Regions from separate parts of the Homo sapiens genome. Here regions 1, 3, 4, 5, 6 and 7 are each linked to region 2. The links come from fine-mapping of genetic effects on gene expression. A gene starts in region 2. Each other region holds a variant in brackets. All regions are shown on one strand. Distances are from middle to middle.

Region 1 (4,395 bases), 64 kb after region 2:
TATGCTTTTTTTTGGGGTGGGGGACAGAATCTTGCTCTGTTGCCCAGGCTGGAGTGCAGTGGTGTGATCTTGGCTCACTGTAACCTCTGCCTCCCAAGAGATTCTTCTGCCTCAGCCTCCTGAGTAGCTGGGATTACAGGTGCCCACCACCATACCTGGCTAATTTTTGTATTTTTTTTAGTAGAGACAGGGTTTCACCATGTTGGCCAGGCTGGTCTCGAACTCCTGAACTCAAATGATCCATCCTCCTCAGGTCCCAAAGTGCTGGGATTATAGGCGTGAGCCACTGTGCCCAGCCTATGCTATTTTCTTTTTTTTTTTTTTTTTTTGAGATGGAGTCTCACTCTGTCACCCAGGCTGGAATGCAGTGGCACAATCTTGGCTCACTGCAACCTCTGCCTCCTGGGTTCAAGCGATTCTCCTGCCTCAACCTCCTGAGTAGCTGGGATTACAGGCTTGCACCACCATGCTCAGCTAATTTTTGTATTTTTAGTAGAGACAGGGTTTCACCACGTTGGCCAAGGCTGGTCTCAAACTCCTGACCTCAGATGATCTGCCCACCTCGGCCTCCCAATGTGCTGGGATTACAGGCATGAGCCACCCGGCCTGGCCCTATGCTATTTTCAAATTATATTTTTTGTTTTTAGAAATTAACAGTTACTTGTGGTATATGACCTAAATCACAATTATTATTTATAGTTTTCCATTTATAAGTAATAGATATCTTTATAATACTTCTAAATTTTGAGGCGTTTTACTTGACTAAATCTGCATAGAGAATTGAATCACATACAGATATTGAGGAAAAATTCAGAGCTGGTAGGGCTGCTGTCATTATTCTTTTCTCTGTTTTATAACCTATGATTAATCAAAAACTGCTAACCGTAAGTTGCCTGCTGGGATTATTATGAGTGTTTTTTCCTCAGATGCAGGCATACTAAATAGGTACTATTTTCTAGACTGCTTATCTGTGAAACTGAACACGGCACCTTCCATGTTGGAAAACATATGAGGATGGGTTATTTGCAAACTAATACCACTCAAGTTTATATTTTGACTGTAACTCATAATTTATGTTCTTTTATCCCTCTTGCTGTCTGCTTTGTCTAAATATTTTGTTAATTTTCTGTTAATACTTTGCGAAAGGAATTGAAAATGTAGTCTAGCTTAAGATTGTAATAGAAGGAAAATACCTACTGAAAGCTTGAACTAATTACACCTTTAGTTTTTATCTGCTTTCTTCAGATACACACCATCTCAGCAAGGAGTGGCATTCAACTCTGGAGCTAAACAGAGGGTTATTCGGATGGTAGAAATGCAGAAAGATCCAATGGAGCCTCCAAGGTTCAAGTAAGTGAAAAGGAATAGGCTACTAATACACACAATAACATGGATGAATCTCAAAACAATATGCTGAGTGAAAGAAGCCAGGCAAAAACAAGTACATACAGTATGATTCCATTTATCTAAAACTCCAGGAAATGCAAACTAACCTATAGTTACAGAAAGTAGATAGGTGGTTGCCTCTGGGGAAGGAGGTAGGGACAGAGAGGAGATGGGAGGGACAAGAGGAATAGGCAAGGGGCAAGCAGAAACTTTTGGGGATGATAGACATGTTCACTATCTTGCTTGTGATGATGATTTCACAGGTGCATATTTGTGTCAAAATTTAATCAAATCGTATGCTTTAAATATGTATAGCTAATAAATGTCAATTATCTCAATAAAGCTGCCTTTTTTTGTTTTTGTTTTTGTTTTTGTTTTTGTTTTTT[G/TG]AGAGACAGTCTCGCTCTGTCACCCAGGCTGGAGTGCAGTGGCATGATCTCAGCTCACTGCAACCTCTGCCTCCTGGGTTCAAGCGATTCTCTTGTCTCAGCCTCCTGAGTAGCTGGGTTTACAGGCGTGTACCACAATGCCCAGCTAAGTTTTTGTATTTTTAGTAGAGACAGGGTTTCACCATGTTAGCCAGGATGGTCTCGATCTCCTGACGTCAGGCGATCTGCCCACCTTGGCCTCCCAAAGTGCTGGGATTACAGGCATGAGCCACTGCACCCGACCTAAAGCTGCTTTTTAAAGTGGAAAAAAGTATATTACTCTGCAAAATGACAATAATGTTGTGGAGGTGGGGTGAGTAACAGTTTCAAAGTTGGCCATGTTTTATTCATTGTCAAAGTGGAGTGGTAAATGTATATCATTATACAGTCTCTGTTTTTGTCTATGTTTGAAACTTTTATGCAAGAAAAAGGAGGAGAGACTTGATATGATGACTAAAAGGGAGGAAACTATATCACTCTCTGGTTGTGTTTTTATACTTCAGGATTAATAAGAAAATTCCCCGGGGACCACCTTCTCCTCCTGCGCCTGTCATGCATTCTCCTAGCCGAAAGGTATTCTTTGCTGTAGTCCAAAATATTTTTTTCTACTCATGGTTATTAATTTTATAGATAACCTCCCTATGCCTATACAGGTGCATGTCACCACACTGACTTGTAGTTTCTTTTTTTATTTTTCAAGATGAAGTTTCAAGAATGCTTATGAGAATGTATATAACATGTTAGCTGTAAGTTTTGTTATTAGTAATGCAAACCCTACTTTTAATGGAATGGACAGGGTCTGCTGTTTCAGTTTAAGGATGTTATAGGAAGTGAATATATGGGTTCATTAGGTCCCTGGTAATTTGACTTTTTAAGATATGTTTTGTTAATCAAAAGAACAATTTTTCATCCAAAAGAAGTCACATCGGCCGGGCGTGGTGGCTCACGCCTGTAATCCCAGCACTTTGGGAGGCCGAGGCGGGCAGATCACCTGAAGTCGGGAGTTCAAGACCGGCCTGACCAACATGGAGAAACCCCGTCTTTACTTTAAAAAAAATTAGCTGGGCATGGTGGCGCATGCCTATAATCCCAGCTACTTGGGAGGCTGAGGCAGGAGAATCACTTGAACCCAGGAGGCGGAGGTTGTGGTGAGCCAAGATTGCACCATTGCACTCCATCCTGGGCAACAAAAGCGAAACCCCGTCTCAATAAAAAAAAGAAAAAAGTCACATCACTTTAAATATGGAAAAATACTAGCCAACATTTATAACTGTCAAGAATAATTTCTAGATTATTTTCCATTTTTCACACTAGTTCAAAGTTATTACTAGAATTATATGGTAAACTAGTGCTAGCAAACAAATGGACTGCTGGCCTTTTACTACGGCTGTGCATATGTCAGTGTATATGGAGCTGTCTTTGAAGATAAAGATTATACTTAGATTTACTTTGTAGACTATAAATCTAAACTTGTCTCTTCTTTCCCTCTTCTCTCAGATGACTGTAAAGGAACAACAAGAGTGGAAGATTCCTCCTTGTATTTCTAACTGGAAAAATGCAAAGGTAATTAAGTTGTCAAATCAGTCTCTATTAGTATAACCTACTGGAAAACACCAGTAAAACAACTACAGCCTGCATAACTGTAGTTGAAACAACACGTGGTTTAACTGAGCATTTTCAAAAAGGAATGCCCAATTTGGTGACTTTTTTAATGTAATAGAAATGTTAGTATGCCAGGCACGTGAATACCGTGTCAGTTCCTTTTTTTTTTTTGAGACGGAGTCTCGCTCTGTCACTAGGCTGGAGTACGGTGGCATGATCTCAGCTCACTGCAGCCTCCACCTCCCAGGTTGAAGCGATTGCCCTGCCTCAGCCTCCTGAGTAGCTGGGACTACAGGCGCATGCCACCACGTCCGGCTAATTTTTCGTATTTTAGTAGAAACGGGGTTTCACCCTGTTGGCCAGGTTGGTCTTGATCTCCCGACCTTGTGATCCGCCGGCCTCGGCCACCCAAAGGGCTTAGATTGCAGGTGTGAGCCACCGCACCCGGCCCCATATCAGTTCTTTTAGTGAATTGTAGCTAGCAGAAGCACATAGAGAAGGAATAAGTAGAATAAAGTGTCATATAAATACAAGATGGTATTTAGAAAACTCAAATTTATATCTAAAAATTATTTCTAAAAGAAAGTAAACTGATGTAAAAGATTATATGACAAAAGAACAGAGTAAATGCTTGGATACTTTAAGTGCTTTAATATTCAACTACTGGGCTCTGTAGTAGTGAAGGCTTAAGCTATATATCTCTAATAATTGCCAAAGTTTCTAGGAGTTGTTAAGAATCTGTAGATTGTGGGATAGATTTGCTAGTTACTGTTTCATCTTCCCTGAATCATAGTTCATGATTTTATTTTTGATGGATAAAGAAGACCATTTCAGGTTTCTTAAGAGAATTTATATACTCACCCTAAACAAAGAGGTTGCCGACTGGTCTGATTTGAGTTGATTGGTATTTTGTAACTGGATGGTATCTTGAGCTGGTTCTATAATGCTTCATTTTATTATGAGACCATGGACTAAAAGTCAA
Region 2 (4,395 bases):
AGAATAGACAACAAAAATAATTCTCACCCAGGCAAGGAATAGAAATCCTCCATTCAGTCCATCCTAGGAAAGGCAGACTGAGGGAGAATAGGGCAAAGCCAGATGCAAAGAGCAAGCAGCAGGTAAGAGAAGAGAGTGAGCTTCCAACGGGAGAGCTACAGTACCAAGCACTTATTAGCTCATTAACTCACACAACCAGATTCCGAGGTGCATGCTATTAGAGCTTCAATCTATGGATAAGGAAGTGGTGTTTTAGAAAAGGTAGAAAACTTGGCCAAGGAGCTGGTAAGTGATGGAGGCAGAACTTGAATCCATGTATGACTGCTCCCACCAAGAGAGCAAAAAGTGCACAAGAACAAGCAGCTTGCTGGGCCCTGAAATAGGCCACTGGAGTCCCTGCAACATGGAAACCTTAACCCAGGAGGCATATTTAGTGAGTTACCCTGGTGAAGAAATGGATGGCTGACCCAACTAAATTTTTTTTTTTTAGACGGAGTCTTGCTCAGTCGCCCAGGCTGGAGTGCAGTGACACGATCTCGGCTCACTGCAGCCTCCGTCTCCCGGGTTCAAGCTGTTCTCCTCCTCAGCCTCCCAAGTAGCTGGGACTACAGGCACACACCACTACGCCCAGGTAATTTTTTTGTATTTTTGGTAGAGATGGGGTTTCACCATGTTGGCCAGGCTGGCATTGAACGCCTGACCTCAAGTGATTCGCCCACCTCAGCCTCCCAAAGTGCTGGGATTACAGGTGTGAGCCACCGCACCCGGCCCCAACTAATATTCTTACAGGTCCTTTGTCTGACAAGAAAATGACTGCATAGCAGAAAGTAAGAATATGCACACTCTTCTAGTACAGATCAAATCGCACATCCCTGAGGCCAGTTGAGAAATGGCCAAGCAAAGAATGACCCAATAAGGTAGAATATGATGTAACCAGGAAAAATGACAAGTATAGACTACATTAAAATCTGTATATAAATTAATATGGAGGGAGTTAACAGTGTACAAAGTAATATGCACATATTTACAATCACCAAAAAAGTAAAACTGGCAAATAAAGACAGAAAGACCCGTAACCAGGTGTGAAGAGATAGTGCTTTAAGTTCACAGGATTTTTTTTCCTATAAAGCAGTGGTACTCAACGTATGGTCCCCAGACCAACAGCAACTGCATCACTTGGGTGCATGTTAGAAACGCCAATTCTTGGTCCTCATACCAGACTTACAGAATCAGAAACTTTGGGGATGGGGTCCAGTACTGTGTGTTGTTACTAGCTCTCCAGGTGACTCTGGTGCATGCTAAAGTTTGAGAACCACTGTAGTAAGAAAATTATTTTATTTATTTTCCTTTTTTTCTTTTAATACAGACGGGAGTCTCACTATGTTGCCCAGCCTGGTGTTGAACTCCTGCCCTCAAGCAATCCTCCCATCTTGGCCTCCCAAAGTGCTGGGATTACAGGCATCAGCCACCACATCCAGCCCCAAGAAAATTATTAAATAAAACATATGAAGCCACAGATAAAGTCTAATTCACTTCAACTCTGCAAATATTTCTTGAGCACCTACTAAGTGCCAAGTATCATGGAGGTAAACAATAAATACTTGTTGAATGACTTTCTTGTTAGTAGAAAGTAAATGCCACTTAACCCTGGGAGAGGGCTGTTCTAGGTGTCTTATCTAAAGGTTGCTCTCCACACACACTGGCTGCTGTTAGCACATATCTACTGTGTGATCTGGAAGCCCAGGGCCCTGCAAGATGCTGGAGATAAGCAGCGGTCTGGGGCACGTTCGCAAGACCGGGTGGAGGGCCAGGATATGGGCATCGCCCCCTGCTCTTGCCCAGACCACGCTCCAGCTCCAGCTGCTTCTGCCTCGGAACTCACAGGGCCACCAGGGGGTGAAGGCGTCTGGGTGAGCCACCTCCGGCCCTCCTCCAGCTCTGCCCACTCGGGTGCCTGCAAGACTGTGCCACTGAAGTGGACAGGTCACATGAAAGCCCACTGGTGTGCCAAACTGGAGAAGTCACTGCAGGGGGGCGGGGCAATGCGAGTCACCCGAGCCACGTGGCCGCGCGCCGGGCCCAGGTGACAAGGTCATGGGGCTGTCCCTCCCGGCGCCCAGGGCGGCTGCACAACCGGAGCAGAGGCCGACTCCCGGCGTGTCCATGCCGGTTCCCTCGCGCTCCAGGCGCGGTGCGGCCCTGCCAGGCTGGTCGGCCCGAGCTCTGCGCCGGCCTCCGGCGAGCTGCCCCTACTCACCCCGAGGGAAGCAGAGCCGCGGCGCCCGGCTTCCGGCCGCAACCCGGTAGCGGGGAATTAGCTGGGAACCGTGCGGGGACAGCCACCTGACTGCGCTTAGTGAAGCCGAGGCGCGCGCGGCCTGCCGGGACTTGTAGTTCCTGGTTCCCCACGCCGCGATCCCGCGGGCAGTACTGTGGAGGCACAGGGGTCTCGGGCTTACTCCGTCAGGTGGCCTTGTTGCTTTGCCAGGGCGACGGACTTGGAATATTACTGAAATATTTTCTTCAAGACATTCTAACTACGTCCCAGGTTCGTGTTTAATGAAAGATGAAGTGGATTTGTAGATTTTTTTTTTTTGAGACTGAGTCTCGCTCTGTCGCCCAAGCAGTACAGCTAATTTTTGTATTTTTTTTAGAGATGGGGTTTCACCATGTTGGCCAAGCCGGTCTCAAACTCCTGACCTCAAATGATCCGCCCGCCCAAAGTGCTGGGATTACAAGAGTGAGCCACTGCGCCCGACCTCGTAGATTTTATTCATTCATTCATTCATTCATTCATTCATTTTGAGACAGAGTCTCACTCTGTCGCCCAAGCTGGAGTGCAGTGGCCCATCTCGCCTCACTGCAACCTCCGCCTCCCGGGTTCAAGTGATTCTCCTGCCTCAGCCTCCTGAGTAGCTGGGATTACAGGAGTGTGCTACCACGCCCTGCTAATTTTTTGTATTTTTAGGAGTGACGGGGTTTCGCCATTTTGCCCAGGCTGGTCTTGAACTCCTGAACTCAGGCAATCCACCCGCCTTGACTTCCCAAAGTGCTGGGATTACAAGCCTGAGCCACCTCACCGGGCCATAGATTTTAAATAAGATATTGGAACTAGTAGGCGAAGAAGAAATTTACTGACAATTGATGTATGCTGGCGGGGCGGTGGCTCACGCCTGTAATCCCAGCAGGCCAAGGCTAGCAGATCACCTGAGGTCGGGAGTTTGAGACCAACCTGACCAACATGGAGAAACCCCGTCCCTACTAATAATAGCAAAAATTAGCCAGGCCTAGTGGTGCATGCCTGTAATCCCAGCTACTCAGGAGGCTGAGGCACTAGAAACCCGGGAGGCAGAAGTTGCGGTGAGCCGAGGTCACGCCATTGCACTCCAGCCTAGGCAACAACAGCGAAACTCCGTCTCAAAAATAATAATAATAATGCTGGCTGGGCAGGACGCAGTAGCTCACACCTGTAATCCCAGCACTTTGGGAGGCTGAGGCGGGCAGATCACCTGAGGCTAGGGGTTGGAGACCAGCCAGGCCGACATAGTGAAACCCCATTTCTACTAAAAATAGAAAAATTAAGCCGGGTGCGGTGGCTCATTCCTGTAATCCCAGCACCTTGGGAGGCCAAGGTGGGCGGACCACTTGAGGCCGGGAATTTGAGACCAGCCTGGCCAACATAGTGAAATCTGTCTCTGCTAAAAATACAAAAATTAGCCTGGTGTGGTGGTGCACGTCTGGAATTTCAGCTACTCAGGAAGCTGAGGCAGGAGAATCGCTTGAACCCGGGAGGCGGAGGTTGCAGTGAGCTGAGATCACGCCACTGCACTCCAGCCTAGGCAACAGAGTGAGACTCTGTCTCCAAAAAGAAAAAAAAGAAAAAGAAAAATTAGCCCAGCATAGTGGCGGGCACCTGTTATCCCAACTACTCGGGAGGCTGAGGTGGGAGAATTGCTTGAACCCAGGAGGTGGAGGTTGCAGTGAGCTGAGATTGGGCCACTGCACTCCAGCCTGGGCAACAGAGCAAGACTCGTCTCAAAATAAATAAATAAATAAATATAATATGCTAGCTAATCTTAGTTATCTTTGGCCCTTATTCATTCATTCACTGATCTCCATTATCAAATGTTGACTTATAAGATGCACTTTGAAGACATGTATCAAAAACATTTCTCTTTTTTTTTTTGAGACAGGGTCTGGCTGTGTTGCCCAAGCTGGAGTGTAGAGGCTCCATCACTGTAGCCTCAACTTCCTGTCCTCAAGGTACCCTCCTGCCTCAGTCTGTGGAGTAGCTGGGACTACAAGCACATACTGCCACGCCTGGCTAAATTTTTTAAATTTTTTCTCAAGAAAAGCTGGGGGGTGTGGTCTCACTATATTGCCCAGGCTGGTCTC
Region 3 (4,395 bases), 100 kb before region 2:
TTCTTGCCTCGAAAGTGAATGTGAATGTGACTGTTGGTGCTGTAGCAGCCATCTTGCAACAATGAGGAAAAATAAAAAAATTTAAAAATCTGAGAAGCCAGCTCTGGTACTGTTAAACCACCAAAACCATATGTCAGTAGGCAACCACTGCAAACCTTCTTGCTATGTGAAGACAACAAATTCTTTTGTTTAAGGCACTCTAAATGAGGCTTTCAGTTGCCTACAGACAAATGCATTACTAACATACACTCTCCAACCCTCTCTGACTCTCATAACACTCAAAAACCAAAAAGAGAACAGATTTCTCCAGGAGCGGGCAAGAGACTAGAATGCAACCAGGCTGCCATGTGAGCAAGGGACACCCACCAGTACCCCCACAGCCAGGAGGGAGGGGTTACTGGGCTTCCAGCATGCCGAGTTTCCCCCAAATTGTGAGGAGTTTATTTCCTCTTACAAATAAAGAAACATGGGCAGCTTTTTCAAATGTTTTGGAGAGTAAGATTTTCCTTTACCCTGACCACCCAAATTCATCTAGCAATAACATAGTGGCCCTCAAGTCAACAGACCTATTTCCTGTTCCTAATTCTGCTAATACTGTTGTGTCTTAGACTAGCCACTTAACTTCTTTACATCCCAGTCTTCCTCACTGGAAAGCAGAATTGTTTCTGCCCTATCTCAGTAAGGACCTCTGAGGATAAATGGGGGCTGTACATACAAGTGAAATGCTCTAGTTGGAACAAAGTTTCCACCAGAAAGCAAGGTGTTATTTTGGTTTGCTGCTTGACTGCGGTTTCTGCCATTTGAAAATCTGGGCCAATAGAGAAATCTGTGAAACTGATACTTTGAACTTAAAATTTAGACTTGCTTGGCATTTTTCAAAAAGTTTCTTTTTAAAAAAGTGAGTGCATGTTTGCTATTGTTGCTTTGTCGGTTTCTTTAGAGACAGGGTCTCATTCTGTCACCCAGGCTGGAATGCTGTGGCATCATCATAGCGCACTGCAGCCTCGAACTCCTGGACTCAAGAGATCCTCCTGCCTCAGCCTCTCAAAGTGCTGGGATTACAGGCGTGAGCCACCGTGCCCTGCCTGTTGTTTTTGTTCATGGCTTCCAAATGAATGGGACATATTTTCGGGTTAAATTCTTCCCTTGGGTTTGTTTGTAAACCTACCTTTGACAGTGGGCCCCTAAGGCTCTGGAGACAAGAGGTCAAATCTCTAGCCAGCCCCACCAGAGGCAGCTTAAAAAACAGCGAGGGGCTGGGCGCAGTGGCTCACGCCTGTAATCCCAGCACTTTGAGAGGCCAAGGAGGGCAGATCACTGAGGCTGAGGAAAGAGAATCGCTAGAACCTGGGAGACGGAGGTTGCAGTGGGTGAAGAATACGCCACTGTACTCCAGCCACGGTGACAGAGGGAGTGAGATTCCATCTCAAAAAAAAAAAAAAAAAAAACCAGCTAGGAAAGAGTCACAGGTGGAAACAGAAATCCCACAGGCTGGAGCTTCTCTGTGCTTGTGCATCAGGGTCCTGGGTGTACTGCGGTTTCCCCCTTTTTGGTCTCCCTGCAAACATCACCATTCCAGTCTAACCACAGAATGTGCCCCTTGCTTCTGCTGCTTAAATCTGAAATGACTAAAATATCAAACCTGGGAAACAGTGGAATTTGTCATGGGAGCTTCAGAACCACAGGTGCCCCTGGACAGACATAACATGGAAATGACTGCAAAATGCCAAACTGCTCCTGCTCAGTTAAAAAAGTGAGCTGCGCCTAAATCACCAGATGGGCAGGAGGACCTGGGGGTGTGGGGTGAAGTGAGCGCCCACATTTCCTGTCCTATGCTTCTTCCATCAAAGAAGGAAAAAATGAAAAAGAGAAATTTGAAAGAGTCAATAAGCACCCCGCACTCCCCCATCCCACCCCCAAACAAAGCAAGCTGAAACTCTAAGGAGCTCATGGCCAGGGTGCTCAGCGGCCCCACCAGCAGGGTCACACCCTGACCATTAGGACCCCTGGGTCCAGGTTCTACCTCTTTGCCACAGAGCAGAGGCCTCCCTCCTGTGGGCTCCTCCTGCCTCCCACACGGATGCCAATCTGGACCCCAAGAAGGAGGGCACCAATTAGAGAAGTTTTAGCCCAAGACCCTGGGCCTCAGCCTCACAGTCTGGCCCTGACC[T/G]CACATTTCTGCTTTGTTTCTATGCTTTGGTCAACATGCCCACGAAACAGGCTGCGCCTGGCTTGTCTGAGACAGTGCCCATCACCCTAGGCCCACAGTCCTCCTGGAGCCTGAGTCCAGCACAGCAGAAGGCCTGGAGACATGCAGTCAGACCGGCAGATTTGGAGTCAGGCTGCTGGCTGGAGCCCCGGCTCTGCCACCTAAAAGCTGTGTGACTGTGGGTAAGTTATATAACCTCTCTGAACACCAGTTTCTCCACCAAAAATATGGTGATAATGGTTACAGTGGAAGCACAACCCCACCTCCGCCCCCATTTCCCACTACTATGAGCAGAGTACTGGCACTCAACATGGAACCAGACACTAGCAGCTGCTGGAAAAAACATCGATTGCTCTTAGGACAGCCACATCGAGTTTCACAGAGGGCTCTGATACACACCAGGGCTGAGAGTTATGCTCTAGACGGTTCACTGGAATTCACAACTTCCCCACAGAGCAAAACCATATGGAGGGTGAACATGCAGGCTCTGGAGCAGGCTACCTCTATTCCCTCCCCTTAGTGGTAAGCCTTGTGACCCTGCCCAAAGGGTTGATAGCTCTGAGCCTCAGTCTCCCAACTGATGATATGGGGGTGATTATGGCACCTCCCTTGTGAGGCTGTTGTAAGAATTAAAGAATTAAAGAATATAAATCACTCTGCAAAAAAGAAGTTATATATTAATTACTATCCATCTGTAGTTCCTAATCTTTGAGATTCATGGGAAGTTATCATACTTCCCAAAAAGCATGCACATCTCCTCAGGGTTTGTCCACAATTTCTAGAGTCCTGGGCTCCTTACCTCACACTAAGGAACCCTGGCATGGCCCTGCACACCTATCCCCACCTCCACACATACAGAAATGGTCTCATCACTTCCAGTCCCAAACCCTGTGGTTATAAAGCTTCTCCCCTGCCACCTTGTCCCCAGGTGAGTCACAAACCCTACCACTTGTCCTGTTTCCATCCCCTGGCACATACGCTCTGCTGCCAGATCCACTAAGCCTGGCCTTAATCATTCAGCCTAGCTGCCCCCTCACCCTCTCCCAGTCCCCCTGACGCCATATTTGCATTCAGTGCTTGTCTGAGCCTGGGAGATTTATAGCACAGGGCTGAGGTTCTTAAACCGCACATAAGCACCGGAAGATGCCTCACACACTGAGAGGTAAAGTCTTTGCGGAGGCTTAATTATGCACAGATGTTGTGATCGGGAGCCAGTGTGCAAAAGCAGTCTATCTCCAGTTTTAAGAGCTGAACTGGGTTCACAGTGCAAAATTCACTTCCCCCTTGTTATGTGTTTAGGCAAAATTAATTACTCAAGAGCCTTAATTCCACCACTGTCTTAGGAAGGGTGTGCAAGTTTTGGAAACAGCAGGTCAAATTGGTATATTCATTATTTACCCATTTGGCATCTTCATTTGAAAAATGTGTGTTATTGTTATTATTGCATGTCTTGGTCTGGCACTTGCCAGTTGGCCCCAGCCAGGGGACAATTTTGCTGTTTCCATGGGAACAGTAGAGGAGATGGTTCTGTCTGGCTCATAGTTCTGGCTCTGAGGGGCACCCCTGCCGGTAAATGGCAGCAGAGTATCCTGAGAGGAGCACCACACTTGAAGTCAGAAAATCTGGGATGTTGCCCTAGCTCCTCTACTCAAACTGTCCTCTGCAATATGGGCTGATGCCTGCTGGAAGGACTCAACACCATAGTACCTGCAGACTGTTCAATGCAGCAGCTCCTGATGAAGAAGAAATAATCAATATATATTGCCTATAGTCAATACTTCTTAGAAGCACTCACCAGAGCCCTTTATCCTGGGTAGAATTACGTACTTCCTCTTGGGAATCCACAGAAACACAGATGAATGCCTGTCATGGTGCTAACAAACCTGCACTGCAACAACACATTGCTGTGTCTGTCCCTCCACTAGATGAGAAGTTTTCCAGAGCAGGGACAAACCTCAGCTCCCAGCACAGCAACAAGCTTGGGAATAAAAGAAATGGAATAAGCAAGTAGAAGCATGTATTAGACTCTATAGCATTATGCTAATTAGTTAACATTATCACTTGTCTCAAAGAGCCAAGTTTTCACTGAACTGGTGGTTTGAGCTCCAAGGCTGGGGCAGTGACACCAGATCTAGGCTGCACTCCTGGATTTACACACACAAGAGGGTCTGTACATCCACACCGAC
Region 4 (4,395 bases), 110 kb before region 2:
GTGAGAGTGAAAACCTATATTAAAATAAATAAATAAATAGAAAGAAGAGATGCTGAGTAAAATCACAGGAAACTGGGAAGTTACTCTAATTTTGGAGCTTCTAGGTACCTAGTGAAAGCTTCTCTAGGTTAGGATTGAAAAGGAACATCACAGAGAGGCATGGCATGGGGTATTTAATGAGTCTCTCTGGCCAGAGAGCCTCCTCAAGTCTCTGGCCAGAGACATTCATTAAAGTTACCCAGATACCAGAGCAGGTGGGAGGGGTCCTAGGGACCTTGGCTATGGGAAGACACAGAGAAAGGGAGGAAAAGCAGAGACATCTGGCATCTCTGGCCTTGGACAACAACTCAGTCCAAAGAAATACTTTCCTATCTTTCCACCTTACCTGGGTCAATATGAAAAATGGGGAAAGGGTTTCTTCCCTACATGTTTCCCCCCATCTTTTGGCACATAATGTACTACGAGCACCACATGACACCACAAAATTCCAAGGGGTGGAATTCAGCATAATTCAACATGTGATGAGGACATATGCTGGGCCTGGCACCGTACCAAGCGTTCTGTTTCAGTCATCAAACGATCCAGTGGGTTACTCTCTTGTATCCCACTTTACAAAAGGTAACTGGGGCTTCAAAAGGGTGAGTAGCTTCACCAAGGTGGCACAGCTTATAAGCAGCAGAGCCAACACCTGAATCCAGGAAGGCCAACTCCACAACAACACAGTTACTCACTCCTGACACCTTTGCTGTGGAGGAAATAAATTTCCAGGAACTCATCTCATACACCTGGACCCCTCTAACATCCCTGAGCTCTTTTAAAGATTTGGTCCTTTTGTCCTTGTGATAGTTTGCTGAGAATGTTGGTTTCCAGTTTCATCCATGTCCCTACAAAGGACGTGAACTCATCATTTTTTATGGCTGCATAGTATTCCATGGTGTATATGTGCCACATTTTCTTAATCCAGTCTATCATTGTTGGACATTTGGCTTGGTTCCAAGTCTTTGCTATTGTGAATAGTGCCACAATAAACATACGTGTGCATGTGTCTTTATAGCAGCATAATTTATCACTCATAGTTGGGAATTGAACAATGAGAACACATGAACACAGGAAGGGGAACATCACACTCTGGGGCCTGTTGTAGGCTGGGGGTAGGGGGGAGGGGGGAGGGATAGCATTAGGAGATATACCTAATGTTAAATAACGAGTCAATGGGTGCAGCACACCAACATGGCACATGTATACATATGTAACTAACCTGCACGTTGTGCACATGTACCCTAAAACTTAAAGTATTAAAAAAAAAAAAAAGATTTGGTCCAAGAAGCAATGAAGGGATGGACAATGGAAGAAGATGTTTTCTTCTGGTGATTTTGGTAGAAGGTCTTCATGCCTCCGCAGCTGCTCTATGTTGGTCTGGGCATCTTCTACCAGACAGCCAGACAGGCCCAGCAGGGGAAAAATGACACTGAGCCAAAATGCAAATGTCCTATTCAACTGGAGGTGGTGACAAGGGGAAAGGTAGAAACTTCAGCATGGCTTTTACAGTGGGGGTAAGGGGGTACCATATGCTTAATAGATGACTATTACCCAACTCCAAGTCTTTATACTCAGAAAATAGAGGTAAGTGGGCAGGAAGGGGAGCAAAGAGGATTCTCGAAGATTCTATGGAGGAAGACATGCCTCTGTGAACCATGAACGCATGAATTATAAGTAACAGTAACATTGTTTTTACAAAACTTCACAGTTTGCAAAATTCACACAATGACCCTATGCAGTAAGTGATGTTATCTCTCCAACTGCATAGATGAGAAAACTCACACTCAGAGGATGTTGCTTACCCAAGGGCACCAGCCAATACACAATCTCAGGGGCCCTAACTTTGAAACCCTCTGCTCTTCCCACCCAGGACCCAACCTCTATAAAGCCTCACCCAGCCCCACCCTCTCCCACACTCTGCTCACACCTCTATTGTAGCAAGTGCACTCAGTGCTTGCACATGGTAGCTGCTCGAGAAATCATTTGCTGAAAGCAAATGTGAGACCTTTTCGCTGCTCCTGCAATGACACAGAATGGAATTAAGAACTACTAGAAGAAGCATAGCAAGGGCTTCTGGCTAAGCATGGCAGGTGGAACCCAGGCCACGGACTCTACTCCTTCACGAACCCCACTAAAGTGACTCTAAAAGTAGTAAAGAAGGCAAAGACCCCACCACAACAAGAAAAGAATAGAGAGGCAACAACAGAAGGCAAAGTGAGATAAGCAAAATTGTGTTTGCTGCAGGGAGCTACTGAGAAGTGACTCAGCAGGCTAGAAAACATGGACCCCTAAGCTGGCAACAGGAGAGCTTTATAATTATTACTGCTGAGCCTCAAGCAGGCTCAGAAACTGAGGGACTCCAGCACCTCTGAAAATGAGATTTGGGGGTTCTGAAAAAGAAAGATTAA[C/T]TGAAAGACTTTAAAAGTACCAGCTAAACCCCTAGATCCCCACCCGACCCTGACAGAAGATGGAGACTGATGCTCTGGGAACAGACAGGCTCTGCAGGCTGCACCACACACCAGCAGCACCACCCCAAGGACAGGGGACTGAACCTAAGTCCACATAATGACCACTGAGGAGCTCTGGCACTCTCGCCTCCTGGATCCCACGTCTCTGGGACAGCCAGGCTGGTGTCCCTTCTAAAACCCCATCCCAGGACTACCCCCAATCTTCACGGACAGCAGTGTCTGCCCACCAGACCTCCAGTCATCTGTCCCTGCTGCCCCTACACTCCTGTCTCTGTCACCTCTTTCTTGGCTAATTTCACACAAATTACATTGAACCTCAGCCTCGGCAGGATCTTAAACACAGACTCACTGAAATCCAATTAACCTTCGATAAAGGTCCAGCAATCAATAGTTGTTCTGTGGCTTGGGGAGGCGCCACCCAGCCCGGGAAAGAGGACTCCTGCACGACCTTTACTTTTAATGAGATCAATGACAGTCATTGTCGCCAGCTCTTAAAGTGACTGGCAAATATGATCACCAGGTCAGGCCCTTGGTAATATCTGCTTCTGGGCTCACAGACACAAACAAATGAGGGCCCCTGCAGGCTGCTGGCTCCCGAGGCCCGTGCTTGCTGGCAGGTGGGCACCCCTGGGCAGGGCTGTCTCGGGCCTGGAGGTGCAGATCAGCAGGGTGAGCGCAGATGGCACTTCTGGCAAGGCCTGAGCCCCTGGCTTCATGTTTCAGTATGGGGAGTCCTGAACTTCAGTGAGTGTCTGAACCGCCTGGACAGTCTGTTGAAATGCAGATTCTTGCAAACTTCTACAATCCTTTCCACCCCGGATTTGGATTAGTGAGTTTGGAGTAGGGCCCAGGAATCTGCATTGTTAAATAAGCTCCCCTGGTGATTCCTTTTTTTCCCCTATAGTGATTCTAAAAGAGATGGTTGGTGAACAAGTCTTAGCTCCCACCAAGCTGAAGAATCAATGTTCTTGGTTAGAGCCTAGCTAGTTCCACACCTTCAATAAGCATACTGAGGACCAGAGAGAGGATGTGATTTGCCTAAGGTTATACAGCAAGCTACCAGCAGGACAGAGATTGAACCTATCCCTCTTGCCTGCTAAACTGTTGTTTCCCTATCCAAGTCTATTGGGCCGAGTGGGACTGGGATGCTGTAGGGTGAGGAGGCCTCTTCAAAGCGGAGTGAGGCTGATACAACAAGTGGTTGGGGGCTCTGGAGCCATCCCCACCCACCTCAAGAGGGGTCCCTTCTACAGCCATCTTCCAGGATAGACATCTGCTTATAGCAGCTAAGATGCCACTAATCACACTACACCCTAGGATTCAGAGTAAGACTTTCGCCCCTGTCACTCCTATCTAGCCCTTGTACCTCCCTCCCCAAGGAATGCTCACAGCCAGGCTGCCCTCAGGAGGGAGTCACTCCAGGGCTGGCTCGCTGAGTACCACAGTCCTAAGGAGACTTTAGAACCTCAGGAGTCTATCTGAAACTTTCAGGATTGTGGACTCTTTCATTACACACACACACACACACACACACACACACACACACACACACACGCTCCTCCGTAGTCTTCAAGGCCGTGGCTTTGATGTTAGTTGGTAAGAGACATGATAGATTAATTTATTCAGAGTAAGGCCTGTCCCTAATCTACTCCCAACACTACTGATGGTAAGTGACAGTACTTAGAGCACCATAGTGGCCCATAGCCCACTGTGGGGGTTTCTGCGGAAGTATTTAATAACATCATCTCAGACTGCCAAAGAGCTACCAAGTCATGCAAAGCCTAAAAGCCAGGGACTGGGGATTAAGAAATTAACATAGTGTGGCATTACAAGGATAGACCAATGAAACAAAATAGATTCCAGAAGAGCCCCACATTGATGACAAAGA
Region 5 (4,395 bases), 92 kb before region 2:
AAACTGTAAAATGCAACTAGAAATGCAAGTTACTGTTATCAAGTTACTGTACATTATAAAAGAAATAATGTTCCATGGGAAAACAGCACACTAAATAGAATGCCTGTACCGATCCAAACTGGTAAAAATGAACGTTCAACAAGGATCGAAAATCAGTTCAGAGTGATGTACATAGCTTGCCATTCACGGGGTTTATCTTTGTTCTGATAAGTTATTAAAGTACACGCTTTTTAGAAAACAGATTTATAGGGTGAAGAGAAGTTTCCTTGGGTGGCCCACATCTCTGGATATTTTTTAATATATATTTTAAAAAATAAAATCGCTGTTGGATTCTGTGCCGACATAAACATTGCCTAGCCACCCACTGTTCAAACAACACATTTAGTAAAGAAACAAGATGAGGCTGGACGCGGTGGCTCACGCCTGTAATCCCAGCACTTTGGGAGGCCGAGGCAGACAGATCACCTGAGGTCAGGGTTTAAGACCAGCCTGGCCAACAAGGCAAAACCCCGTCTCTACTAAAAATACAAAAATTAGCCAGGCGTGGTGGCAGATACCTGTAATCCCAGCTACTTGGGAGGCTGAGGTAGGAGAATCACTCGAACCCAGGCAGTGGAGGTTGCAGTGAGCCAAGGTCGCACCACTGCACTCCAGCTTGGGCAACAGAGTGAGACTCTGTCAAAAAAAAAAAAAAAAGGAAGGAAGGAAGGGAAGAAACAAGATGGTAGACAGAATGCACTGAAAATGCTGCTCAGAAAAGGTCAAAAACATGACTGCCATGGGTTTTCACTTTTTGAGACCCTTGGGATGGGCCAGATGACATCAAGCAATAGATCAGATTTAGTGCTCAGGCCAAAGAGTCCCACCCCAACATAGCCGAGCACCTTGGGGCCCAGTAGTGCATGAAGGGCATAGTACTTGGCAATGAGTTAGATTCCTTAGGGTGAGAGGGCAAGGGAGTGTTCCTCATCAATTCAGAAGCTGGAGAAATAACTGGGAGTGATACAGGGTGATTAGGACCTGGAGATTATGGTAGTCCCCCAGCTCAGGGATCATCTGAGTCCTACCCTGCCCTCAAGCAGTGAGAATGGCAGTGAGATATGGCCCGCTAAGCTCCCCAATATTGTGGGTAGAAAAGAACTGCTGCAAAGCCAGCCCGCCAGCAGACGGATGGACTATGCTTCATCAGTTCACCCCCTCCTGCTGAATCATTGTTCCAATCTCTGGGCCCAATTAGTCTGGCTCTGGACAGCCATTCAAATCAATAAGAGTCACTGGCCGTGCATCTAGAAGTAGAGTTGCCCCAACTATTAAAGGGACAATATCAGGTGATAATGACAAAGCTGAAAAAACATCCCTGGCTCTGCCTTTTTCTTTTGTGCAAAGTCATCGACACCATCAGATTCACTGAACACCATTTACTGAGAATCAGCCTCCCTTCCCTGCCATCCTTCAACAGTCTATCCTAGAGGCTCTCTCCCCTCTCCAAGGGAGAAGGTTCACAGGAGACACAAAACTGCCAGGTTCAGAGTAGACACAAAACTCTAGGGTAGTACATGCTATTGGAGGCCAAACCAACAGCCATCTCCCCCATCATCCTGGCTAACACAACCCCAAGTTTGTACATCCTTCATGTCCTTCAAGGATAGCAGGTCTGAGAAGGTGAGTCATGATTGGTTTAAGCCAATCAAGGTGGTCTCAGTTTTCTTGCCAAGACTGATTTGGGAGTGGGCATTACTTCTGGACAATAACAAATGAAGGGAACTCTGCTAGGGATCTCTTTTTTTTTTTTTTTCTGATAAAGAATATGAGGATGTCCCCTACTTGTAACACCAGGAACTGTTGCAGCTGTGTTGGGACTACGTGCGGTGCTCGCTCAGGAGGGCGAGCCAGGAAGCTGAGATAGCAGAGTGAAACATGGAAAGAGTCTGAGTCATTACAAACAATGAGGTGCTGGGCTGTCAGCCTTGGAACAGCTGACCCAAGTTCCAGACATCTTCACATGTGAGATAATAAGGGTTAGTATTAGCTATACCACTTTCAGTTGGATTTTCTGATTCTTAGAGCCAACTGAAAGCATCCCACCTGACACAACCAGTAGTCACCACCCCCTTGCTCTCAAAAGTCTCACCCCTGTAGACCTCTATCACCCTGTAAATGCACAGTAGTTATGAGTTTGGGTGTAGAAGGTCACCTCTTAAGATGCAAATATAAAGAGGTTAAGCCTATCAGTCACTCTCTTTACTGTGAACTGCTTTCATCAGATTGCTTTCCTCTTAAGACCAGGCTGTGATCAATTATGGGGCAGAGGAGAGTGTACAACAGTGGGAGAGAAGCATAAGGGCACACCACACCTGGAGTTGGCATGAAAGGAGACGTAGAGGCTATGCAGAAAAGTAGCTTTTCCTCCTCTCTGTCCCTAAGTTTCTGGTAGCCCTAAATGTCCCCTAGAAATCACTCTTCAAGCCAAAAATGCTTAATACCTTTC[T/C]TGGATTGTCATTCCTAAATATAAGACACCATTTAGGTCTCAACACAGAAAAACAAAATATTCACTTCAAGTACGAGCTTTCCAGTTGGGCCCTTCTTGGTTTTGTACCAGAGAAAGACCCAGGCAGGACTTTTCCCACCAGAGACGAAGCCCAGTGAGATGGCAGTGTTACCCAGTGCTGCTGCTAATCCTGATGATCCATGGGGTGGTGGCCTCAGGCCTCCATTCCAGCTGTTCTCCTGAAGGGTATGAGTGCGGGTCTCAGGTTTGCCTTGTGGTCCCAGCCCCAGAACTGCCTCAGCCACTACTAAGGAGCCACTCTGTACTCTGCACACAGCCTGCCAGGCTGTGCTTCCCAAGAAAAGCATGTGATGCTTATCTCAGGGAGGAAGATGCCAAATCTTTATTACTGCTATTATTGCTCTGACCTTACAGCAACCATTACTTAGGGAGCCAGCAAGAAAACGCAAAGAAAAAGCGACAGCTGTCCTCACTGTCCAAGTGGGCCCTGATGGCTTTACTACGCAGAGGCAGCTTCCTGCCTGACTCAGGAGTGGCTTCTGGGATTCAGGAAACCCTGGGATCCTCCAAGTCTCCCAGGTCTCTCCCAGCTATGGCTGCTCCACAGCTGCTGACAGGTGTGCTAGAAAAATCAGGTTTGTAGGCGGATGCTCAGGGCCACCCAGCAATCCTGCTCTCCTGCCCTGGTCAGCTCCCTTCCACTGCACACAGTAGCTGTTCCAAACCTTCACCCACCTCGAGTCTCCAATGCTACCTTCTACCCCCTCATTCTCAGCAGATGGTCTTGCCTCCCACTTCAGAGAAAAAATAGAGGCTATCAGGCTGCTACACACTCTGCTGCCCACTTTCCCTCCCCCTCTCCTCTGCCCCACACACTCATCTGTACCCAGCCTTCCCACCTTCCACTGGGCTCGAAACAAAGGCTAAGGTTTCCACCTGTGTTCTTCATTCCCAGTCGCTTGAATCTCCCTTAGGACTTGATCTAGCAATTACTTCTCTCTGCTGAATCCCCAACCTGCCCCCTTCCCCATCAGCTACGATTCCACTGAAGTCTCCTCAGTATTTAATCCTATGCTCTGCTCTGACCACTACCCTAACTCTCCCAAACCTTCCACAGCTAAATATCTGAAAACAGTACATTCTCCATGAAGAGTCTCCACTTTCTTGAGTCTCAATTCTTTTTCACCCCGATCAGGCCACTGTAGCTGCTCTTTCTAACCACCCTAAATCGCCAGATCCAAAATACCCTTTCCAGTGCTTTACTGATTTGATCTCCCATATGACAACGTTGAGGAATTCTGGCAGACTATGTTTTCCAAAACGGCTGCAACAGTACCTCCCATTCTAATTCACTTCTAGAACCTTGCCACTCTCCCATTAAGAGGTAGAGTCTATTTCCCCAACCCTGAACTTAACTAAGGGGGCCTTTGTGACTGCTTCATCCAAAAGAGTAAGAAAGAAGTAATCCTATGTAGTTTCCAAGGCTGAGTCATAAAACTGTGATGTACTTTCAGCCTTATTCTCTTGGGCCACTTGCTCTTAGAACCCAGCCGCCATGCTGTGAGGAAGACCAAGCAGCCATGTAGAGGCTGATATGGAGAGGAACTAAGGCCCTGGCCCACAGCCCCAGTTAAGCTCCCAGACAACAGCTAGCACCAACTTGCCAGCCAGGAAATGAGCCACTCCAGCCCCCAGTCAAGCTACTCCAGCTAGAGCTGCATAAAACAGATGAGTTTCTCTACCAAGCCCCGGCCAAACTGCGAATTCATGAGCAAAACACATGACTGTTGTTTTAAGCTCACTGTGTTTTGAGGTGACTCATTATGCAGCATTAGATAACTAATATAGTGCTTTCATCTTTAACTTTTCTCCACTGAATATAGCAG
Region 6 (4,395 bases), 70 kb before region 2:
TGAGACCATGTGTTTGAAAACATCTAATTCATGCCCAGGACAGAGGAAATGCTAAATATTCAGTTCCTTGACCTGCGAGGTTTCCTCATCTGCCTGCCCTGCCTCCCACTTGGGAATGCTGACAGAAGGCGTAAGCTGCTAAGATGAGAAAACTTTGTGAAAAGCGCAGGACCCTTTGCAAAGAGCCATGGAATGCTGGGGTTAGAAAGCCTGGGTTCTGAAGCCAGACCTGACTCTGCTCACGCTCTCTGAGTGACTTAGGCATGAGACCTAACATCTCTGGCCTCAGTTTGCACCTCTGTGAAATAGGAATAATAAAAACAGTACTTACTCTCACAGAGCAGTTGTGAGGCTTCTTTGAGATGATGCTGGCCTAGCCCTGACAGTGCTCCACCTGCTCCCCTCAGACCTCCCCTTCAGCTCCTGCATGACCCCCAGGATTTGCATCTGTGCCAGAGACTCCCTGGGACTTCCAAGTCTCAGGAAGTATCAGCTCCCAGGAGCAGCTGTCAGTTAAAGAAGTTAGGGCCGGGCACTTTGGGAGGTCAAGATGGGCAGATCACCTGAGGCCAGGAGGTTGAGACCAGCCTGGCCAACATGGAGAAACCCTGTCTCTACTAAAAATACAAAAATTAGCCTGGCTTGGTGGCGCATGACTGTAATCCCAGCTACTTGGGAGGCTGAGGCGGGACAATCGCTTGAACCCGGGAGGCAAAGGTTGCCATGAGCAGAGATCATGCCACTACACTCCAGCCTGGGCAACTGAGTGAGACTCTGTCTCAAAAAAAAAAGAAGAAGTTAGGAAGTTGGTGTATGAATGAATATCCTACCTTGGCCCTTGGGTGGGATGGGTGAAAGGTACGTATTTGACACCATTTCCCAGTCTGCCCACAGGACTAACCTGATTTTGCCCACAGTAGCCACTGGTTTAAGAGCAGAGAGTTACCAGCTGCCTCCCCCTTCCTGAACCACATCCCCACTTCCCTACTGGCAACATCTGAGCATCCCACAACATCACTTTTACTCAAATTATTGTTTGTTTTTAGGAAAGCCCAAACTAAGACAAGCATGTATTCCTCACTCATTTGGCCATGTTGGCCAGTATGTTCATTGTACATCTGGGCAGGCCTGAGGCTCCTCCAAAAAGCCATCCCCTCTCCCAGGACTGCCACGAGGAAGAACAGACCTCTGGGTCACGAGGAGACAGGGAGAGGCATCAGAAGCCACTGCAATCACATCCACCCTGCCCATACTGACAGCCCCAGCCCTGAGTGGCCTGCAGGGGAGACCTGTTCCCCTTCTCCCTGGAGAAGAGAGGGAAGGCCACGAGTTCCAGTCAGGGAGGAAATGAGGACTCTGTGACCCCTGTGGCAGTCCTAGAAGGCATGGGGCCAACTGCCAGGGCAAGTCCTTCAAGAGCCATAACCATGGCATTTGTCCTCCAGGCTATGGCCTCCTGACTCACTGCCCAACCTGGGACACTCACGCTCTGAGCTCCAGGGGGATGTTGAGGGGAGAAAAAAATGGCACCTGCCCCAGCTTAGGGAGACAGCTAAAAAGGTTCCATAGGGAGAGCTCACCTTTGCAAGATATGGATGATGGAAAGAGCCTCCTCGCAGGGCCCCTCCTTTGGCTCCCTCCATCCGTCCTACACCATTAGCTCACTTTGCCTAAAATGTCTCTTTATCAGTCTTGGGCACACACAAGAACACACAGGCTATTAGCTGATTTGACTTTACTTCTAAGACCTGGGGCCTAAGAAGATACCCTAAAACTTGCCACAGCAAGACCCAATGCCTATGGCTCTCTTTAACGTCCCCCAGAAACCAGCCCTTCTGCAGGGCTAGGAGCTGCATAGCGGGAAGAGTGGAGATGTCATCAGAGCTCAAATCCTGGTTCTGCTTCTTACTGGCTACATGAACATAGCTGTTACCTTCTCAGGGCCTCTGCCTCCTCAGATGGAAAACCAGAATGGTAATCTACCAGCCTTACAGAGTTATTGTAAAGGTTACAAACAATATCTGTAACACATCCAGCCAATGCACACTACATAACAAGTACCAAATAAACACAACCATATGTTATTATCCACCAACACTAATACCTACCATCTTGTCTGCCTTTACCCATCTGTGTTGGTCCATTCTCACGTTTTTATAAATACCTGAGGCTGGGTAATTTATAAAGAAAAGTGGGGCTGGGTGGAGTGGACACTATTTAACCCGGTACAACATCTGACTTAGGCTAAGTCAATCAGAGTCCTGAAATTGGGGAGCAGGGTCAGGCCCTCTTAGGTGTGAAGCTGAGAAGAGGTGAGGCTAAAAGCTGTCAATGGCAGCTGGTCATGGAGGGAAGCAGCTGTGAATGAGGCTGACCCACAGACAGAAGTTGCTGGGAGAGATACAAGAGTCCCAGAAGACACCCCAAGGCCCAACTCTAGCCCAACCCTAACTACAATGTAACACATCTCCTTTTTTGCCTTAGCTAGTTCAAGTTGGAGTTAAGATCCTTACAACCACAGAAGACCTAATGCACCCATCTGTTGTGGGTTGAACTGTGC[T/C]CCATAAATATTCATATGTGGAAGTCCTAACCCCAGCCTAGAATGTGACCTTATTTGGAAATGAGGTCATTGCAGATATATTAATAATTAGTTAAGATGAGGTCATACTGGAATAGCACAATCATAATCCAACATGACTGTGTCCTTATAAAAAGGGGAAATTTGGACACAGAGCCAGACACCCACATAAAGAGGATACCATGTGAAGATGAAGGCAGAGATTGGGGAGATGCATCTCCAAACCAAGGAACAGCAGGGATTGCCAGCAAACCCCCCAGAAGCTAGGGCCGAGGCCTAGAACAGATCCTCCCTCGCGGCCTCAGAAGGAACCCACCCTGCTGATACCTTGATCTCAGACCTCTGGCCTCCAGAACTGTGAGACAATACATTTGTTGTTTAAGCCAGAGGTTTGCGGCTAGCCCGAGAAAACCAATACGCCATCCAACCAAAGCTCCCTGCCACTCCAGGCCAGCTTGTCGGCTCTCTGGGCATTGAATTACCTGTGGTCATTACTCACCACCAACTGCCAACCCTGTGTGCCCTCAGAATTCCCCTCCTCAAATCTTACCCACCCTTCAAGGACCAGTTCAAAGCCCAAACCCCCACCACCAGGAACCCGCCTCTGAACTTCCCCTGAACTTCCCAACCATCAGCCCCACAGCTGAGGGCTTAATTGTTCTCTAATTACTCCCTCTGTGCACGGTTCTGCCTGCTTGGCTTTGGAGGGAGGGGCACAGCTTTAACATTCTGTATATCCCCCGCTGCAGTGGCACATGGGTAAGAGAATAGCAGTTGCTCTACAAATCTGTATTCTCTAGGTAAGCAAACCAACAAGTGGTGGGTCCCAACCTTCCCGGGGTTAGTGAATGGGGCCACCATGGGTTGAGGCCTTTTATCTGCAGGAAGTGGGTATGGAACAATCCAGACACACCAGCCGATCAGAGGGCTTGGGCACGACCCTGAGCACTAGATCCCAACAAAGGGGAGGCACCCCACGTGCAGCCTGTGGACTGAGAGTGAACTGGTGAGCACATTAGTATAATCACCCCAAACCACTGGCAAGACAAAAGACTGGAAGAAGGACAAAAAGAACCATAGGATCCTGGACTTAGGAAAATATGGCTTCCTCAAAGTCCGCAGGAAACTACAAGGTCCCAAGGACAATGCAAGCTACGGAGGCCCACTGGGTGGCTCTGACAGCAAGCCCAGCCCGATTGCTCGATTGAGTGCTGCCCTCTCTTCCGGGCACTGAGCTTCCATCTGAAACAGAATAGTCCAGGAGAAAGAGCACTGGATCAGGAATCAGGAGACCTGGGTTCTAGTCCTGTTTCTACCACCAACCAGTTGTGTCATTAAGCAAGTGACTGCCCCTCTCTGAGCCTCAGTTTCCTCACCTGTGAAATGTGGGGGTCGCACTAAATGATTTATAAGCCCTCACAACCCATGAGTGATTCTCCCAGATAACTTTTGTCCAAAGCACTTGCCACTGAACAACAGAAGGTGAACAAACAGAGTCAGTATTTGTTAAACCTCAGGAAGATCGAGGCACCAGGCAAGGTGCTGGATACAAGATGAGGGTGCTGGTCTTAACTGCCAAATTTTGCTCTCGCAACAACTCGACACGTAACAAGCACAGCTGACAGTGAACTGGCATTTACCATTCACCAGGCAGTGCACTTTGGCTGGGCTATAGCATTCATTCCTCACCACAGCCCTATTCATGTGAAGGCTCTCTTATCATCCCTGTTTAAACATGAGGAAACCAAGGCTCAGCAAAATCACAAAACTTACCCAGGATGACATAGAACATGGTGACACCAGGATTCAAGGTGCAG
Region 7 (4,395 bases), 110 kb after region 2:
AAGCTACATTAGAACCAACTTCCGCCCTCCAGTCTTCCATTAGTGACCCTTATAGGCACAGGTTAGCAGACAGCCAGCTGGCAAATAAGAAATGTAGCTGGCAGGGTCTCAGCCCCATATTATGAAGCTAAGTATAGAAGAGTGGATTTGAAACTGAGAGAAAATAGACCAATAATGAGCACGCCATTCATTAGACGATGACTTTCAAATCTATGTTTTAGCTAAAATTCATTATAAGATTTCGTGTAATCATGCCTGTAATAAATGAAATAGGGAGGTAAAGAAGTCTCGGATGACTCTAAGTGTCAAGACCTGATAAAAATTAGAGGTGTACTTTTACCACTTCCAATTCTAAAGTTTGCTTTGGGATAACAGTTGTTGTGGAATATTTATTTCTCTTGAGAATACCCAGAAAGCCAGACACATTTGCATAGGGGTAGATGTCTAATGTTCATCAAAACCTACCTGTTCATTAACTTGAAGCATGACCAAAAAAATATGGGGAGTAAATAACAAAATAGTGAGTATAAAGATGTCAAAATTATTTGAATAACTGATGGAGAATTTCCCCCTCTTCTTTTTTTCCCACCCATCTTTTGTATAGGGTTTATTTTTATCCCAAACCCCTTCCTCCCAGGTTACCAGTGGCACTGGGTGAAACAGTGCCTTAAGTTATATTCCCAGAAACCTAATGTATGTAACCTGGACAAACACATGTCTAAAGAAGAGACCCAAGATCTGTGGGAACAGAGCAAAGAGTTCCTGAGGTAAGTCTTGTCAATCAGAATGAAGTGTTAATACTCAGCTCAGATCATCACAGGTCTTTGAAGGAACTGTTCTATAACAATGCAGTAAAAGTGACTGGCTGGGTTTTTTTTTCCCTTCATTGTTTCCAAGCAAAAACAGCACAATTGTATTCTTTCCCCAGGAACATTTGGACAGATGCTTTGACAGTTATAGTAAATTGAGATCCATTTTAAAGACTTGCTTATCATAGCTTAGATAATTGAGTTCATCCTCATTAATCATCACATGATCCATTTCCATTAGCTTCAGCCATTTTTTTCTACTTAAAGTGAGTTCCTTTGAAGGCTTTTGGTATCCTAGGAAAGGTAACATCGAAAGCTCTTTGCTTCTACCCTCCTAGATGGATTCAGTGGTACTAGCCGTTTTATGATAGGTCAGTTGTTCCTGATGAGAATAACTAATATTTTCACCTTCATGCTTCAACATTCATTCATTCATTCCACAAATACTTAATGAGGGTCAGTAGTGTGTCAGGCATGATGCTAGGCGTTGGACACAGAAAGATAAAGGCACCCTCCCTGCACTCAGTAGTGCATAGTCTCTGGCAAGAATGCATTACCTATGAGAATAATTACTGTAGAGCTCAGAAAGTGTTATGATGCGGTTTAGAAAAATACTGTGGGAGCATAGAGGAGGAAATAATTATTCCAGGCAGGGTAGAAGTGTGAACGAAGAAAAAATGATTTTTTGTTTGTTTGTTTTTTGTTTTTTGAGACAGAGTCTCACTCTGTCACCCAGGCTGGAGTGCAGTGGCGCGATCTCAGCTCACTGCAACCTCTGCCTCCTGGATTAAAACGATTCTCCTGCCTCAGTCTCCTGAGTAGCTGGGATTACAGGCATCCACCACCACGCCCCACCAATTTTTGTATTTTTAGTAGAGATGGGGTTTCGCCATGTTGGCCAGGCTGGTCTCAATTCCTGACCTCAAGTGATCCCCCTGCCTCAGATTCCCAAAGTGCTGAGACTACAGGCGTGAGCCACCAAGCCCGGCCTGAAAAAATGATTTTTTTATTGGGTTATCCTCCTTTCACTGTCCATTTGAACTAATCTTCAAAAATGAGTAGGGGTTTACCAGTCAGAAAAGTAAAAAGTCTCTACTGAGTAGAGAAAGCAGCCTGAGCAAAGATACAATATTTAAGACAGAATAAATCGTCCTGCGAGACAAGAGCATAGGATGTGTACTTTCTTACGTTTATTCAGTTGTTATCTATTGAGTTTCTGCTATGTGTCAGACACTGTGCTTTAGTGTTAGAGATTCAAAGGCAGATAAAAAACAGTTCCTGTCTTCAAGAAATTTGTACTTTAGTTATGTTCAAAAACCTACAAACAGATAATTAGATACAATTTGGGTCTGGGCTTGGTGGCTCATGCCTGTAATCTCAACACTTTGGGAGGCCAAGGTGAGAAGAACACTTGAGGCCTGGAGTTACCAGCCTGGGCAACATAGCAAGACCCCATCTCTATGAAAAAAAATTTTTTTTTTTTTTTTTT[G/TG]AGACGGAGTTTCGCTCTTGTTGCCCAGGCTGGAGTGCAATGGCATGATCTTGGCCCACTGCAACCTCCACCTCCCGGGTTCAAGCAATTCTCCTGCCTCAGCCTCCAGAGTAGCTGGGATTACAGGCAAGCGCCACCACACCCGGCTAATTTTGTATTTTTAGTAGAGGTAGGGGTTTCTCCATGTTGTTCAGGCTGGTCTTGAACTCCCGACCTCAGGTGATCTGCCCACCTCGGCCTCCCAAAGTGCTGGGATTACAGGTGTAAGGCACTTCCCGGCCCCAAAAAAATTTTTTTTTTTAATTAGCTGGGCATAGTGGTGTGTGCCTGTAGTCCTAGCTACTCGGCAGGCTGAGGAGAGACTGTCTCTAAAAATAAATAAATTAAATAAATAAATAAATAAATAAATACAATTTGGTAGGTGCAGGGACAGACATTATAAGATATAATGGGAATGGTCACTTAAGTAGCTAGGCTGGAGGTAGATTATAGAAAATGCTTCCTGGAAGCCATGAGTAGGTGGAATTGGTAAAACATGAAGGAGGAGAGGTGGATTTGGGCCAGATGGTAAAGGTTTTAGTGATGTAGAGCAGGGGGGTCCCCAATCATGGGGCAGCAGACCTAGACAGCCAAGCATTACCACCTGAGCTTCGCCCCCTGTCAGATCAGCAGCAGCATTAGATTCTCATAGGAGCGCGAACCCTGTTGTGAACTGTACATGCAAGGGATCTAGGTTGCGCACTCCTTATTGAGAATCTAATGCCTGTTCATCTGAGATGGAACAGTTTTCATCCCCAAACCACCCCCCATCCCCACTCCATCCATGGACAAATTCTCTTCCATGAAACTGGTCCCCAGTGCCAAAAAGGTTGGGAACCACTAATGTAGAGCACTAGTTCTGGAGTCAGACTGACTGTGTTCAGATCCCAGCTCCACCACTTAATAGCTGTGTAACCTTGAGCAAGTTCCTTCACCTTTCTGTGTCTCATAACAGTTCTTTCCTTATTGAATAGTATGAGGATTAAACAAGATAATACGTGAGAAGTCCTTTAAAGTGCCTGTTAAAACCATTTTACCAACTTTGTGTCCCGTTTGGTGTTACGTGGCCTTAATTTTGTAGTTTTCAGAAACTGTCATGCCGATTCTAACAGAGTAAAGAGAAGATTTTCTTAAGGGGAAAGGAAAAGTAAAATTCAGTGGTTTTTTTTAAACCTTGGTCTATAGGTTATGGTATCAACAGGAGCAGTGAGGAAAATCCTGTCCATGAGCTTTTAGTAGTGTCTTCTTCGCAACTGAGAGCAGGGGAAAGGAAGATCGTGGTTAAGTAAAATTAGTCCAAGAGAACCTACTGCTATTAAACCAGCCTGTGTTTTCAAGTAATTTTTTTTCCTTCTGATATATGACTCTGCAGAAATCCCAGCTGTCTTTTAAGATAGCTCAGATGAATCTCTGTAATAAATCATCCTGTAAACAATGGTGAGATACCTTTTTTTTGGTCTAATAAATTAGCAGAAATAAAAAATTTGATGGTCGTACCTTATGTTGTCAAGGGTTGGAAGAAATTGATATGCTCAAGACATTGTACTGGCAGCACTGAAAATCGATTAAGGCCAAGTTTTCATTGTATCACTATGTGATACGTGCTTCAGTTTCCTCATGTAAGAAATGAAGGTATTGGACTGGATAAGCCATTCAAGGTAATTGAATCATGGGCAGTCAGGGTCATGTGGACAGTACCTGGCAGCTCTCCCAACTTTGCCAGAGTCTCTCAGAACAGGAGAGAGTCTGTTGAGTTCAAAACAGTTCCCCTGGAGATTTTGATTAGGTATCATAACATCCTCTGACATTGAGAACCACTGAAGTAAAGGACCTCTAAGATCCTTTTGGTTTTAATTTTCTAGAATTCTATAGTCAGGGAAGAAAAAACTTTAAATAGGAAATGAAGAAGAAATACTTGAACTTAAGCAAAAACAAAAATTATTTAAAAAAAAATACTTGAACTTAAGGACTGTTCAAAAAATTAGAGTACCTCAATTCTGTTCTTTTTTTTCCAAAGTGAATGGCGTAGCTAGAGATTGTTGTAAAAGTGTACAAGAG

Alleles and levels. Alleles are on the strand shown, and positions count from the first base shown. SD is a standard deviation of normalised expression in the study named. Not every link is listed here.
With allele G in place of TG in region 1, the expression in macrophages of the gene that starts at base 2,319 in region 2 is higher (small effect, 0.36 SD a copy in Nedelec 2016).
As copies of T replace C in region 5, the expression in B cells of the gene that starts at base 2,319 in region 2 goes down (large effect, 0.83 SD a copy in Schmiedel 2018).
For the expression in naive CD4 T cells of the gene that starts at base 2,319 in region 2, T is the low allele of the variant in region 6 and C is the other (large effect, 0.86 SD a copy in Schmiedel 2018).

The links. PIP is the estimated chance that this variant, and not a neighbour inherited with it, causes the effect. A credible set is the group of variants that fine-mapping cannot tell apart.
Region 1: its variant is the best candidate, but not a certain one, in a credible set for the expression of ADCK1 in macrophages (Nedelec 2016, PIP 0.59).
Region 3: its variant is the best candidate, but not a certain one, in a credible set for the expression of ADCK1 in cerebellum (GTEx, PIP 0.63).
Region 4: its variant is the best candidate, but not a certain one, in a credible set for the expression of ADCK1 in whole blood (TOPMed, PIP 0.80).
Region 5: its variant is the best candidate, but not a certain one, in a credible set for the expression of ADCK1 in B cells (Schmiedel 2018, PIP 0.58).
Region 6: its variant is the best candidate, but not a certain one, in a credible set for the expression of ADCK1 in naive CD4 T cells (Schmiedel 2018, PIP 0.89).
Region 7: its variant is the best candidate, but not a certain one, in a credible set for the expression of ADCK1 in lymphoblastoid cells (GEUVADIS, PIP 0.66).

Annotation. Positions count from the first base shown.
Region 1 is chr14:77,733,926-77,738,320 of GRCh38, reverse strand. It overlaps SNW1 (SNW domain containing 1), which reads left to right. Exons shown (of 14, transcript NM_012245.3): 6 at 1,246-1,350; 7 at 2,315-2,384; 8 at 3,309-3,374. Among named protein-coding and RNA genes, the nearest start is that of SLIRP-OT1, 25 kb to the left of the region's middle. The variant G/TG (reference allele first, on the strand shown) is at 1,773.
Region 2 is chr14:77,798,033-77,802,427 of GRCh38, reverse strand. It overlaps ADCK1 (aarF domain containing kinase 1), which reads right to left and starts at 2,319. Exons shown (of 11, transcript NM_020421.4): 1 at 2,258-2,319. RefSeq lists enhancers at 1-322, 1,704-1,783, 1,794-1,843, 1,917-2,455, 2,456-2,994 and a silencer at 2,034-2,393.
Region 3 is chr14:77,902,358-77,906,752 of GRCh38, reverse strand. All of the region lies in intron 6 of ADCK1 (aarF domain containing kinase 1), which reads right to left. Among named protein-coding and RNA genes, the nearest start is that of ADCK1, 100 kb to the right of the region's middle. The variant T/G (reference allele first, on the strand shown) is at 2,171.
Region 4 is chr14:77,912,100-77,916,494 of GRCh38, reverse strand. The region is part of intron 7 of ADCK1 (aarF domain containing kinase 1); the gene reads right to left. Among named protein-coding and RNA genes, the nearest start is that of ADCK1, 110 kb to the right of the region's middle. RefSeq lists an enhancer at 3,128-3,643. The variant C/T (reference allele first, on the strand shown) is at 2,448.
Region 5 is chr14:77,890,039-77,894,433 of GRCh38, reverse strand. The region is part of intron 5 of ADCK1 (aarF domain containing kinase 1); the gene reads right to left. Among named protein-coding and RNA genes, the nearest start is that of ADCK1, 92 kb to the right of the region's middle. The variant T/C (reference allele first, on the strand shown) is at 2,489.
Region 6 is chr14:77,867,762-77,872,156 of GRCh38, reverse strand. The region is part of intron 4 of ADCK1 (aarF domain containing kinase 1); the gene reads right to left. Among named protein-coding and RNA genes, the nearest start is that of ADCK1, 70 kb to the right of the region's middle. The variant T/C (reference allele first, on the strand shown) is at 2,561.
Region 7 is chr14:77,691,110-77,695,504 of GRCh38, reverse strand. It overlaps ALKBH1 (alkB homolog 1, histone H2A dioxygenase), which reads left to right. Exons shown (of 6, transcript NM_006020.3): 3 at 605-767. Among named protein-coding and RNA genes, the nearest start is that of ALKBH1, 15 kb to the left of the region's middle. The variant G/TG (reference allele first, on the strand shown) is at 2,299.